Homo sapiens: one gene and its partner. The protein of the gene in region 1 interacts with the protein of each later gene in a pairwise test. Each region holds a gene or a part of one and is shown on either strand. Other genes may lie near its edges.

Evidence for each region. The genes of interacting proteins can lie anywhere in the genome.
Region 2: the proteins of RORB (region 1) and MAP6 interact in a two-hybrid assay, tested with the Homo sapiens proteins (one study listed by BioGRID).

Annotation. Positions count from the first base shown.
Region 1 is NC_000009.12:74,640,232-74,647,389, reverse strand, and holds part of RORB (nuclear receptor ROR-beta), read right to left. Parts: intron 4,977-7,158; coding exon 4,575-4,976; intron 1-4,574. UniProt on the Homo sapiens protein: Nuclear receptor that binds DNA as a monomer to ROR response elements (RORE) containing a single core motif half-site 5'-AGGTCA-3' preceded by a short A-T-rich sequence.
Region 2 is NC_000011.10:75,665,960-75,673,020, reverse strand, and holds the start of MAP6 (microtubule-associated protein 6), read left to right. Parts: upstream 1-3,982; 5' UTR 3,983-4,651; coding exon 4,652-5,556; intron 5,557-7,061. UniProt on the Homo sapiens protein: Involved in microtubule stabilization in many cell types, including neuronal cells. Specifically has microtubule cold stabilizing activity.

The DNA.
Region 1 (7,158 bases):
GAGACGTTGTAGATACATTGCCAATCACTTCCAGCTTAAATGAGCTTTCATTAAGAGTATTAGTCCTGCAGAATTCCCCAACTCATCTCAGCTTGTTAGTGGTGGAGCAAAGACAAGATGTTCTACTTTCCTTTTCTGCATGTTTGCGGAACATCTTTTAGCTAGCTAGCTTCCTCTCCCTGCCACCAACCACTGCAAAATGTTATCCCTAAAGATGTAACACATCCATCACGCCAGTTTGAAGTAAAATTCCAGCTAAACCCAGTTAATACTGCTGTCTAAATATTAATTTTCGGCTTACTTGTTGCCATTCTTTCATTTCATGGCTTCTTTTTCCTATGGTTTTAGAAAAACCCAAGGATGTAACTCCTGAAATGTTTCATGGTTTTCTGTTTGCTTACCCACATTTTATTTCTATTCTCAAAACTAGGGGAATAAAACATTCCTGATAAGAGATGTGGCTCAGGTTGATCAATACTTGCCGTCTCCCTCACCTCCAGAAGAGTGTGGTAGCATCCCGCCCAGAACGTATACTTAGGATGTGGTGAATTGTCGTGACTATTTATTTTCGTGGTATCTCCTAGATGGTGAGGGCAGAAACCTCGTTCTGCTCTTCTCAAGTGTATGGCACATTTCAAAAATAGGTATTTGAAGAAAAATGCCTGGCAGTCTAGGACAGTGACTTAACCTTAACCTTAGAATTTAAGCTTTATCACTTAACTCTCTGTCCTAGGAATATCACTCACTGTCTCAGACTCTCAATTTCTTTATCTGTACAATGAAATGGTTTCTTCACTGCTCACCTGAAGGAACTGGTGTGAGGCTCAAAATGACTAAAATGCATGAAATGATTTTCTACATTTTTCTCCATATATCAAACATTATCATTAGAGCCCTTAACCTAGGAATTTTGTAGTTTCGTTGGTGAACTTTCAGCAAGACAAGTTTGTTTTTTTGGGAGAGTATTCCTGACTCTGCTAATATTCAAAAACTGACTTTTTGGGATCTGCATGCAGTTGCTCATATAGTTGTGTTATGGTTCTTACATGTGTGTTTTTATCAAAAATTTCAAACTCATGAGATCTTAGTCTATATGGACTGGTCTAAAAACTGGTTTTTAAAAGCGATCTGCTTTTAAGATGACCCAATATCAGAAGCATAATGACCTAGTTGCATACATTTCATTATTCTCTTAGAATCCAGAGGAAGCAGATCAGGACTTCTGGTAGCCAAGGGTGATGTTAAATTTTTTTTTTTTTTGGTGTGACATAATCTCAAATTCACCCAGTCAGGATGTGGCAAAATCTGATTTTCTGTTTTATATGCATAGGGTTTTTTTCTATGGCAGCTTGCCACCAACCAGATTGGTTTAGATGCCCATTAATCAAATCAAGTCAAAATGACAGCGTGCATACTCTGAAAGCTCCAGTTTGTAGTGCCTAGAAGGAGGTCAGGTAGGCAGCAAACACCAAACCTGTGTTGTGGTGAGAATGGCAATCAACTTGTGAGGAGCTGCCATTGGTGGGAGGAAATACAGTATAACGGTTAAAAGAATGGGTTTTGATGTTACTCAGATATGGGCTTATAAGTGTTCTTTGCTTTTTACAAGTTATATAACTTCTAAGCCTCGATTTTTCCATCAGTAAAATATACAAATACATAACAGGCATAATGGGATTGTTATGAGAATTTAAATAGGACTTGCTCATCACAGTGTAGGTGCTCGATAAAAGGTAATTATATTATCTGCAATAACCAGTGATACTAATAGTCAATTAAAATAACAGTTATATTATTAATAATAATGGTGCTTACATATGATAGGTACTGTACTAAGAACTCATAAATATTAACTCACTTAATCCACACACACAGATAAAGACTATTATTGGCCTGGGTTAACAACTGAGACTCAGAGAAGTTAAGTAAATTGTTTAAGGGAAAAGGCACAATTGGGTTTTAAATGCAGGCACTTTGACTCCAGAAGCAGAGTTCTTAGTCACCACACTATACCACAGATGCCTTCCTGCCCAGTGATACTGTCAAGGATTTAATATTTTAGTGAAATGAGTGTCAATGTTTTGGACGGTGCAGGAAAGACAGTATATTATACTATTGTGGCTCTTCATTGGTACCTAGATTCAACAGTCATAGAATGGGTTTGTGTCCACTAGGTGGCATTGCTGTTTTAATGAAATGTGAACCAAACCACTATTTAGGCTTAGGGGTCTCCTAAATTTGAGAGCACTGGCAGGACAGCCCATTTGCATCCCTAAATGTCTGATGAAAAAAATCCTCCAAAATTTGAAACATATTTAAAGATATCTAAAGACTAGAGGTATCTTGAAATAATTGAGTAAAATATACGCGAGTTTATTTTGCATGTCAATGTCTGTGCAGAGTGTCTGGATAAATTTTGAGATTCTCTAGTCCAGTTCTGTCAGTTCACAGAATAGACTCAGGGTCAGAGAGGAAAAATGACTTGTTCAGGGTAACGCAGACCTGATGGTTTGGCTGTAGTTCTCTTTCCATAATATTTAATGTGGTTGCTAAATCATAAACAAGTTATGATTTATTAATTCTTAGAAGACTCCCCTTTTGAATATAGGCCAGAAGATTGCTCCACTGTTGTGAGTTTTTGTTTTATAAGGATTCAAACATATCTCTCAAATTAATAGTAGACTCAGGAACTTAGATATTAAGTAGTATAAATGCAAAGGAAGGTGCCTTTTCCCTCTTGAAAAGTTTGAATGACTATTTTAAATGACCGTCCCTATTAGTTGACAATGCAGTCTATGAATTGAGACCCATGGCAGGTAGCAGGTTAACAGAGGAGTGGAGGGACTCTGGAATCAGACTGTCTGAGGTGAACCCTGGCTCTGTCATTTAGTAATTATAGGACTCTGGGAAGTTATGAGACATCTCTAAGCTTCGGTTTCAGCATCTGTATAACAGAAATACTATTTTAATTTATCTTTTAAGATGTTCGTGAAAAGTAAACGTGTGAAGGGCCCATGATATAGTAAAAACAGTTAAGGATGACAGTAATAATTAACTATTTTTGTTATTTTAGTTGATGTTTCTTTTTTTGTGTGTCTCTCAGCTGTGAAAGTCATTACAGGTGCTTTGTCAACAATGTTACTCACTGTCACATGCTGCATTGCTAAAAGGGAGAAATAACGCTTCAGGTTTATAACTGTGTAACATTGCTTCTTCCTCAACCAGATGGTACAAGTAGCCAAGAATATGGCCATGTATTTCATTATGTGTTCACAGCAGCTTAATTTAAAACACTTGTAGGCTTTAGGCTCCTATTTGCAGGTTAGACAGAGAAGGTGACCGAGCATGTAGCATAAAACAGTAATAGCTAAGAGTTATTGAGCACTTCCTGAGTGCCAAACCTTGCTATGGTTTACACGTATTAACTCATTTAAGCTTTACAATGTCCCTGTGAGCTACAAGCTAATGCTTTCCCCCTTGTAAAGATGAAGGAACTGGGATTGAGAAACTTGCTCCAGCTTAAATAGTAAGCCAAAGAGCCAGGATTTAAACTCAGGTAGCACAGTTCTTAATTGCTCTGCTCTGCCACCTCTTTGGGCAGAGCCCTTGAAGAAATGTAAAGAGCCCTTGAAGGTTCCTGAGCTCTAGCCTGCTTTCTCCAGTACACTAAATATTGCAGTGAAGCCTGGGATCACATCGCCACTGTTTGCTTAGCTCTTCTAGCCTACTGTTAACATGCAACCCTGTTACCCAGGAGAGTAATGTGTTAAACCTACTTCAATATTTTTATGGCAGTTAGTTGATGAGATTAACTGGTTAAACATTTAATAGACTCCTGAGTTCGATGGAGTAAAACAAAGTTGCAGTGGGTCAGAAGAGAGCTTGCCTAAGGCAGGGCACTCTTGAAGATCGCTCCTTAGGAATCGAAGGAAAGAGGATCAGCTTTCTGATGCAATCATGCCTATGACTAGCTTATTTGTTGCTCTCATGTTCTATAAGATTCCAGACTACACTCTTTTCATTGCTGTAATTCAGAATCCTATATGGAATTCTTGAATTCAGATTTCCAAGAGCCTTGGCGGTCTTCTGGTCTATCGCCCTGACTTCACCAAGAAGGAAGCTGAGATACTGTTTGCTTAAAGTTTGTCCCCATTTATCTTAGAGGAAGAGTTGGGCCCCTGTTCGTTTGGTTATTCCACACTGTTTCTATATCCTTCAGCAATTTCACTTTGAATAGCATCAACTTTGAATACATGCCGAAATTTCCCTGTTTATACCAATAACATTTTTCCTTCAGTGAGAACCCAAATTCAACAGATAGCATCTGTTCTTTACAGATAGCATCTTTCTATTTATAATTTCTTCTTTCTTCCTTTGCTTGAAATAAACTTTTATGGGGTGGGGAAAAATGACATTTATTAGAATATATTTAAAAATCAATTTGTTTTCTCAGTAGAAGCTGTGAATCCAAGTAATTCAATTTAAGTCTTAAGAAAATTACCATACTAAATAGGACCAAGGTAAATTCAAAGCAAAATCTCAAAAAAAGCCACTGGGAGGAGACTTCCACTTACCGATTTCAGTCATGGTTATCCCTGGTGCTAACTGCCCATTGTTGAAAGAGCTATAGGTAAACAAGTTGGGTACGGATGTGAGGTCATAGATAGGTTCTTGCTTTATCTGTTTGATTCCAGTCATGTCAAGTCCTGACTGATCAGGGGACGGCTGACCGGAATCGACGTTGTAATAACCCTCAGACTTGGGCAGGTCAATGACGTGCCCGTTGGCATAAGTGCCGCTGGTCTCGTTGTTCAGGTTGCTCAGGCCGTTGCTAATGCTGCTGCTGTACACCCTGGCAAGGGCTTCTGCCTCCCCACTCTGCTGCTGCCGCTGTTCCTGCAGCCGCTGCTGGTGCTTCTGCACCTCAGCATACAGGCTGTCCCTTTGCTTCTTGGACATCCTCCCAAACTTCACAGCTGGGTTGGAGAGAAAAGCAGAAAACAGCACTTGTGGTTATCATTCGCGTTAACCACCTCAGGTACAACGGGTCATGGGATGGTTGTCCCTTCAACTTCAAATGCACAAATGTCTAGCACCATAACTTAAGAACCCATTCATTTGCACTCCACATCTGGGGAAAGGTTATATTCAGAGGGTACCTGTCCTGGTTTATGCCCACAGTGAGAAATAAATCTAAGCCAGGAAGAAATATAAAAACTTATGTATGTATTTCTCATTGCCATGAAGTTAGAAAGCATGTTTTCCTCTTTTTTTCTTACCTGTGGAAAAAAATGCAAAAAACCAAAATACCAAATTAGCAATAGTACCCGCTATTAAAATGTTAACCAACACTCATAACTAACTTTTCTCTTAATCTTTAGGATTACTAGATTGCCAGATTGGACCCTAGTATTTCACTTTCAAATCTATTTTCTGTTTTCTTTCTCAAATTTCTTTTTATTTTTTATAATAATTTTCTTTAAGAGACAGGGTCTTGCTCTGTCACCCAGGCTGGAGTGCAGTGGCATGATCATAGCTCACTGAAACCTTGGGCTCCTGGGCTCAAGCAATCCTCCCACCTTGGCCTCCTGAGTAGCTAGGACTGCAGGTGCATGCCGCCAGGTCCAGCTATTTTTTTTTTTTTTAATTTTTGTAGAGCCGGGGCCTTGCTATATTGCCCAGGCTGGTCTTGAACTCCTGGCCTCAAGTGAGCCTCCTGTCTCGGCCTCTCAAAGTGCTGGGATTACAGATGTGAGCCACTGCACCCGGCCAGGCCGATTTTCTAAATAGTGTGTTGGGTAAGACCGAAGGCATGGGGCTGGGTGATAAACATAATTTTAAGTGATGGCATCATTTGCCTTCAGTTGGCTTTTGGGATCAAATGATAAGATTCTTTGGAAAATAGCAATTTGGGGCATCCAATGCCTAGCAAGTGACCAAAACAGTAACTATCTTTTCTCATTCTACCACTCCCAAGTTTTATTTTTCCTATCTCTTCTGGCAATATTCTCAGCAGTCTGAGGAAAAAGAAGGAAGAAGTGCTGCAAGTAGTCACAGGGTAATATCAAGGTGCTTTCATTTCAGTGTGTTGTTTCTTAAGATATTTAACCTCCTGAACTGTTGTGAATATTGACATTTCTCCTCACAGGTTGTCAACTGCCTTTTTAGGATGTGAACATCCTGAGTCACAGGCCTACCTTGTTTGAATTATCAAGCATTGTTCAGCTCATGTTAATAGTGGGGGCTACCACAAACTTGGAGGCTCCTCCCTGAGTTTCTGTTTGCTGTTCTTTTGTGACGGTATTCCCACCACCTCTTGGTGTTAGGAGCTCAGAGAATGGAGAAAGAAGGAAATGGAGTTTAGAAAAAGGCTCAGTTCCTGGATTCAATCATGAGGGTTGATGCTCTTCTGAGAATATCTAAATGGTGAAGTGCTTAAGAACTCTCTAGCACAAAGGGAACACAGAAGAGATTCCCACAGTCTGAAAGAGCTGCCATTCACCCTCCTCCTCCAATATTCTTCCAAAATTCATTTTCTTTTCCCATTGGGTACAGAGCTACCATATTTATCTGAGCATAGGCTGATCAGAATGGAGACCGTAATTCCTAAGCCCCCTCACTGGCAGGTATGTGCAGGTGATTAAGTTCTGATTAAGGGGAAGTAAATGCAAGTGTCGCATTCACTTGGGGGTATTGGGGCATGTTTTCCTCCTTCTTGCCTGCTGGATTGTGGATGTGAGGGCTGGGTTTGAAGAAGCCAAACTCTTTCTGTATCTTCTTAATCCTTCTTAAAAACCTACATTCTAGGGCTGGGTGCGGTGGCTTGCACCTGTAATCCCAGCACTTTGGGAGGCCAAGGCGGGCAGATCACGAGGTCAGGAGATCGAGACCATCCTGGCTAACGTGGTGAAACCCTGTCTCTACTAAAAATACACACACACACACACACACACACAGAATTAGCCGAGTATGGTGGTATGTGCTTGTGGGCGTGGTGGTGTGTGCTTTGTCTTCCCAGCTACTCGGGAGGCTGAGGCAGGAGAATCCCTTGAACCCAGGAGGCAGAAACTGCAGTGAGCCGAGACTGAGCCACTGTACTCCAGCCTGGGTGACAGAGGGAGACTCTGTCTCAAAAAACAAAACAAAACACAACAAACC
Region 2 (7,061 bases), on another chromosome or scaffold:
TTAATAAAGTTTTCTATAGTCCCTTTTCTTTCTTTCTTTAAATGTGAATTTTTAGGTTCATAAACTTTTTAGGTTAATACGTGATATGGCTTGGCTCTGTGTCCCCACCCAAATCTCATGTGGAATTGTAATTCTCAGTGTTGGGGGAGGGACCTGGTGGAAGGTGATTGGATCATGGGGGTGGATTTCCCATTGCTGTTCTTATGATAGTGAGTGAGTTCTCATGAGAGCTGGTTGTTTAAAAGTGTGTAGCACTTACCCCTTCTCTCTCTTCCTCCTACTTTGGCCATGTGAGGAAGGTGCCTTGCTTCCCCTTTGCCTTCTGCCATGATTGTAAGTTTCCTGAGGCCTCCCCAGCTATGCATAACTGTGAGTCAATTAAACCTCTTTTTTTCATAAATTACCCAGTCTCAGGTAGTTCTTTATAGCAGTCCAAGAACAGACTAATACAATAAGTTAAGATTTCTACTCTCCTCACAAACAAATAGGGACTTTAGAATATTTTAACTCTGATTATTCCTTCATATCTTAACATCATAGTATTTCCCAGTATTTTGGTACTCTACTGTTTTTATATACCTCAAATTTGTTCAGGCATGGCCAGATCCACATGCTCAAATGACTAAAATACTAAGAGAACTCCAAACAGTGGTTCAAACAAGAGGGAACTATATTTCTTTCTCACATGCAGTCTAGCAGTAAGCAGGTAGCCCAAGGCTGCTAGGCTGCTCTGCTCCATGGGATCATCCAAGACAGGTTTCTGCTGTGTTGTTCCTCTCCCCTTCCTTCCCCAAGGTTGAATCTTGGCACTAGAATGTTCTTAACCACAACACCAAAACCTTCAGAGCTGTCTTAACTACCCAAATGATAACTCACCTCTACCATGTCCACATCCTACCCAATGGGGAGAAAGACAAAGTTGAACACAAGCAACTTCTTTTAAGGAAGTGACATGGAAGTGCAGATGGTTGTTCTTTGCTGCAAGGATGGTTGGGAAATGTGGTTTCTGGTTGGGTGGCCCAGTGCCCAAATAAAACTTGGGGGCTTTTGTTACTATAGGGAAGAAGAGAAGAATGGGCTCTGGGGTGTAGATATCATCAGAATCCTGTGCCCCCTTCTGATTTTCTCTGTGTTTGCTTCAACCTTAGGAAGCCTCCCCACCAGTAATGGCAAAGATGACCACTAACAGTAGCTTCATAGTCTTCCATTTTAGCAATTCTAGAAAAAAAAAAAAAAGGAGAGTGGGTCTTTAGGATAGTTTCAGCTAAAGTCTGGGGTTTCTTTAACTGGTCTAATGTGGATCACACCCCCATCACTAAACTAGTCACTTTGACCAGGAAGATGCATCCCCCTGGCAAACAGGTGTGAGTCATATGGGCACCCCTGGAAGGTAGGTGGGTTAGGATTACCTCCACCTGAACCACATGGCCTGAAAATAGAAGAGTGGCCCTCAAAATTCAAATGATGAGGTGCTGTGACCACCCGAATGATTGCTAAATAAGCCATATAAGAGATGACCACTAGACTTGTCTGTCCCACAGGGTCATTGGATGGTCCAGGGAGGTTGAATGCATTTTTCAAATCCAAGTAAATAAATGTGGAAGGTGATGTTAACGATAAAATTTTCCTTACACTTCTCATGCTGGGAGAACTCCTTCTCATCTCTTACTAGTCATTCATTCAGCACCAGTGTTAACCTCTGTTATGTTGACCATACTCTTTGATAATTATTTACTTATGTGTCTGTCTCTCAGTTCTCCAATAACACATTCTTTCAAGTGAGGGCTCCTCCAGAGCTATAATCCATATGTGTCCTATAGTCCTCAAGGCACAAAGTAGGCATCAGGAGACTAGACTTGTTAAATGAAAGAAGGATAAACTATCAGTGATTCTCAGAATAGACATCCTCCCTCCAATTTTTAGCCTTTTTTAAACCTTTGGAAATCATTATTGGAAATGCATCAGCCAAATCCCAGGGAGTTCTGCAGGGGTGAGAAGAGGAAATGTACGACCAGATTATGTTCTTTATAAAAATATATCTCCTAACGACTGGAAAACAGCACCAGACATTATTTTATTTATGGAACTCAAATCAAATCACCAAGAGGCAAAGTCCTAAGTAGGAGGAAGTTCAGTAGATAATTGACTAATCAGAGCTGTCTTCTCATCCAATTTGATTCTAGGATTAAAGAAAATCTGTGTTGTGCAACCCATTTATAATCTAAACACATACATGACTTTCTCTCCCTGAAACACCAATGCTCCCAGCTTAACTGATACTGAAAACTCTGCCTATATTGGAGGGGAAAAGAGCTGAAGTCCAGTGGATGTAGCTAGTGGAGGAGTGCAGGAGACATAAATGGAGAGATAGCAAAGACAGAACAAAAGTTACTTGGAGGAACAAGAGGTCTCCTGGAGAAGGTGTCCAAGTGGCTTCTTAGGACACTCCACTTATGGGTCTTCTGGGTGGGCCTTTTGGATACTAATAGCTACCATTTATTGAGCCATTGCCATATGCCAGATGTTGTGGTAAGCATTTTTAGTGCATTATCTCATTTTAATTCTCAGAACAACCTTGCAAGTTCAGTATTGGTACCCCCATTCATAGATGAAACTGAAGGTCAGAAGATTGCAGTGATTTGCCCACTGCCATACAGTTAAGAGCTACAAAAGCCAGGATTTGAATCTCTGCAGATTAGATTTGACTCAAAGCTTCTGCCCTGGGTCCTTCGCTATCCTCACAAAACCACTTTTTTTTTCTTTTTGAGATGGAGTTTTGCTCTTGTCACCCAGGCTGGAGTGCAATGGCACTATCTCGGCTCACTGCAACCTCCACCTCCTAGGTTCAAGCGATTCTCCTGCCTCAGCCTCCTGAGTAGCTGGGATTACAGGCACGCACCATCATGCCCAGCTAATTTTTGTATTTTTAGTAGAGACAGGGTTTCACCATGTTGGCCAGGGTGGTCTTGAACTCCCAACCTCAGGTGATCCACCGGCCTCAGCTTACCAAAGTGCTGGGATTACAAGTGTGAGCCACGACGCCCGGCCCACAAAACCATTTTTGAGGCAGGTAGTATTTCCTCCATTCTACAGATGAGGAGACTGAAACACAGGGATGACTCAACTTGCCCAAGTGGCACAGAGAGTAGCAGAGCCAAACCAGGTCTTTCGGACTTCAAAATCTCTTCTGCTTTGAAGATAGAAGAAGAGCAACGGCGAGGAGTGAGAACGTGCCAGAAGGCCCCTGCAGGCCAGGCACTGCCGTTTCCTAGGGCACAGGTCCTACCTACTCCCAACCTCCACAATTAAGCCACTTTCCAGAATTTTCTTTTCTCTACCTCTGCCCCAGTGTGGCACCTGAACTGAACAGGGACTGGGCGGTTCTTGGGGGAGTCTAAAACATACCTTCGCAAAGATTCCCTAGGAAAGGAACATCCAGGGCACCACCAGCCCTGGTGCTCCCATTCCGACACATCTGAGCAAGGCCTGTGCGTAAGACTGGCAAGTGCTTGAACCAGGAGGCAACCAAACTGGGCTCAAACACAGCCCGCCGGTTTTGACCAATTCCAGCAGCTCCCCTTTTCAAAGCATCTATTCTGGGACAGACATTTCACTAGGAGTTTCCTCCATGTTTTAAAATTTAATAGCACCCCCCCCCCCCATTGGCCCTATTTTACAAAAGAGGAGCCTCCGACTCCTGGGGATGAAGCGACAAGCACAAGGACAGAAAGTCCTCACGAGCTTGGGACTTGAACCCACTACGTCCCCAGATTCTGCTGTTGCCCGGGAGTAGAGGAGGGAGGAGCTGCCAGGGCGGAGGGTGGTGGGGAGGGAAGGCAAGCTCCCAGCAGCGCAAGCTGACGACAGCAGGTGTTTTTGTTTTGTTTTGTTTTTTTCTGCAGCACTCTTTCAGTCAGCATCGTTCCTGGATTTTTTTCTCACTGCTGAGCAGCATAAAAGGGTGGGGCCGCTTCCCTGCAGCAGAGGCAGAGGCGGCGGCGGCAGCGGCTGCAGCATCATTCGCGGGCAGCGGCGGAGACCGAGAGCTGCAGAAAAGGGTGGGGTCGCTTCCCAGGAGAAGAGGCGGTGGCGGCGGCGGCTGCGGCATCCTCGCGGGCAGCGGCGGAGGCAGCAATGCTCGGTCTCCGCTGGAGGTGATGGCCTCCCAGCCCTGCTAGGTGGCCGGCTGCACTAGGACGCCGGCAGGAAGGAGACTCGAGCCCGGTCCGCGGACCCTGCGGCCACACCGCCCGGCCCCTCCTCTGCGCCATGGCTTAAGCCTGTAGCCACCTCTCCTCACGTCGCCTCGCTCGACCGAGGTCTGTGCGCCGCCGCAGCCGCAGGGAGGGGCGCGTCCCAGACACCCTCGCCGGGGACTCGGGAACGCCGTGCGTCTCACCCTTCGGCGCTCGCAGCAGACTGCGCTCCCAAAGGCGTTTGCGACCGGTAATCGAGGGACTCTACAGACTCTCCTAGGACAGCTCTCCCCGGGTGCTCGCTGAGGGAGGAGGGCGAACTAGCTCCGGCTGATCGGGGGTAGAAAACGGTGGGAACCACATTGGCCGGTCAGGATCGGAGGCTGAAGGAAGATTATAGAGACTTGCTTTAGAACCACAAGAAGAAAGAGGAGGCCGGCTTTTCAGCTAGCATCATGGCGTGGCCGTGCATCACGAGGGCCTGCTGCATCGCCCGCTTCTGGAACCAGTTGGACAAAGCGGACATCGCTGTGCCGCTGGTTTTCACCAAGTACTCGGAGGCCACCGAGCACCCGGGCGCCCCGCCGCAGCCACCGCCGCCGCAGCAGCAGGCGCAGCCGGCGCTCGCGCCCCCCTCGGCGCGCGCGGTTGCCATAGAGACGCAGCCAGCCCAGGGCGAGTTGGATGCAGTTGCCCGGGCAACGGGGCCAGCGCCTGGGCCTACCGGCGAGCGCGAGCCGGCGGCGGGCCCCGGCCGGAGCGGGCCGGGCCCGGGCCTGGGCTCCGGCTCCACCTCCGGCCCCGCGGACTCGGTGATGCGGCAGGATTACCGAGCCTGGAAGGTGCAGCGGCCCGAGCCCAGCTGCCGGCCGCGCAGCGAATACCAGCCCTCCGACGCTCCCTTCGAGCGCGAGACCCAGTACCAGAAGGACTTCCGCGCCTGGCCGCTGCCGCGCCGCGGGGACCACCCGTGGATCCCCAAGCCCGTGCAGATCTCTGCGGCCTCCCAGGCGTCGGCGCCCATTCTCGGGGCGCCCAAGCGCCGGCCGCAGAGCCAGGAGCGCTGGCCAGTGCAGGCCGCCGCTGAGGCCCGGGAGCAGGAGGCGGCCCCCGGCGGAGCGGGTGGCCTGGCGGCCGGAAAGGCGTCCGGGGCGGACGAGCGCGACACGCGCAGGAAGGCCGGGCCTGCCTGGATTGTGCGCCGCGCCGAGGGCCTGGGGCACGAGCAGACGCCGCTGCCCGCGGCCCAGGCCCAGGTCCAGGCCACCGGCCCCGAGGCTGGCAGGGGGCGCGCCGCGGCGGACGCCCTCAACCGGCAAATCCGCGAGGAGGTGGCGAGTGCAGTGAGCAGCTCCTACAGGTGAGACGCGGCCGCTGCTAGCGCGGGGGAGTCACCACGCAGACCCTCCCCGCGGGCTGCCCGGGGCCCAGGATCCCCAGCGCAGGCCTAGCGTGCAGCCTCCCTCCAGTCCCAGGCCACACCCTCTCCCCAGCCGCCTCCCAGGCCACCTCCTGTCGAAGCCTTCTCTTCTGCCCTGTCCCATGCGCAAGCTGTTAGTATATTCCATCTCAGCCTGCCTGGCTCTTTCACTTTACCGCTGTAGCCCTTTTCTCCATCCCTCCCACCTCAGATCCCTGCCTTCCCACAGAGACCCTTTGCAATGTCAGCAGAGGCTGTGCTTCCGTCGTGCCCCCATCCAACTCACCTGCTGCGTTAGCCTGGATGTTGCCCTTTGCAGGGTCCCCATTCTTCCAGAAGAAGAATTCTTTCCAAGTGGCCTCTCGCCCTCCTCCCTAGCCCAGTTCCCTTGGCCCTTCATTCTTTCCTCCCTTTCTCAGTCTCTGGGCAACACCCAAGCACCATACCTTTTTCTAGATTACCCACAGGATCTTTACAAATTACCCCCCACCTTCCACCGCTGGAACTTTGAAGTCATTGTCCTTCCACCTCTCCCTAGCTGTGACATATTGGGCAAGTTTCCTAACCTTTCTGGGCCTCATGTTCTTATCTGTAAGATGTAATTGGTAATAGACATCTCTTAGGATTGTTCACACTTTTATTGATTTAATATTAAACATTTTATTTTTATTTAGTTAATATTAAATATTCAACATATTTTTGAGTGCCTACTATATGCCAGGCAGTGTGCCGGACATTGTGAGGATTAAATGAGATAATCAGGAGAACAGCTCGTGCCTAGCACATAGTGGTAATTAGTACATCTTGGTTCCATTCCTACCTTCCACATGATACCTTATGATCCTACTTCCTAGGTGCCTCCAGCCTTCTCTGCTATTGAGGCATCTTCTTTCTCTCTCCTTTCCCTACATGTTCTCCAGATGTCTCTCATTCTCTTGCCACCAAAAACCCCTTTCTCCAGCACACTCAATTCCTTGCAAATGAATGCTTTCAAGCATGAAAATCTCTCTCTCTCTTTCCTTCTAGAATTTTCCCTCTGCTGCAGCTTCAGCCATTCCAGTCTGCTTTCTTGCCCTTCATCCATCCGGTATATATTTCTGAAGGCTTAGCTTTCAATTCTCCCCTTATGTTTCAACCAACATCAATTAGCTAACAGAACACAGTTGACTCTGGACATGCAACATTGCATTTGGGGTCTCTCGGGGAAGATCTGTATGAAAGTAATTGAGCTAGAGGTGTTCAAAATGCAGCTTATGGGGTCCTTTATCAATGCCACAGCTTTCTGCTGCCTCCTTCCTGCAAGAGGGTGTGGGGGGCGGGGAGGACTAGAGAGTTAGTCCTTTGCCAAGACTCTGTATATAGGTTAGACTAATATCCTTCTCCAGTGAACATTACCAATACTCTCTCATAGGCTGAGGAAAGAATAGCATATCCAGACATCCTTC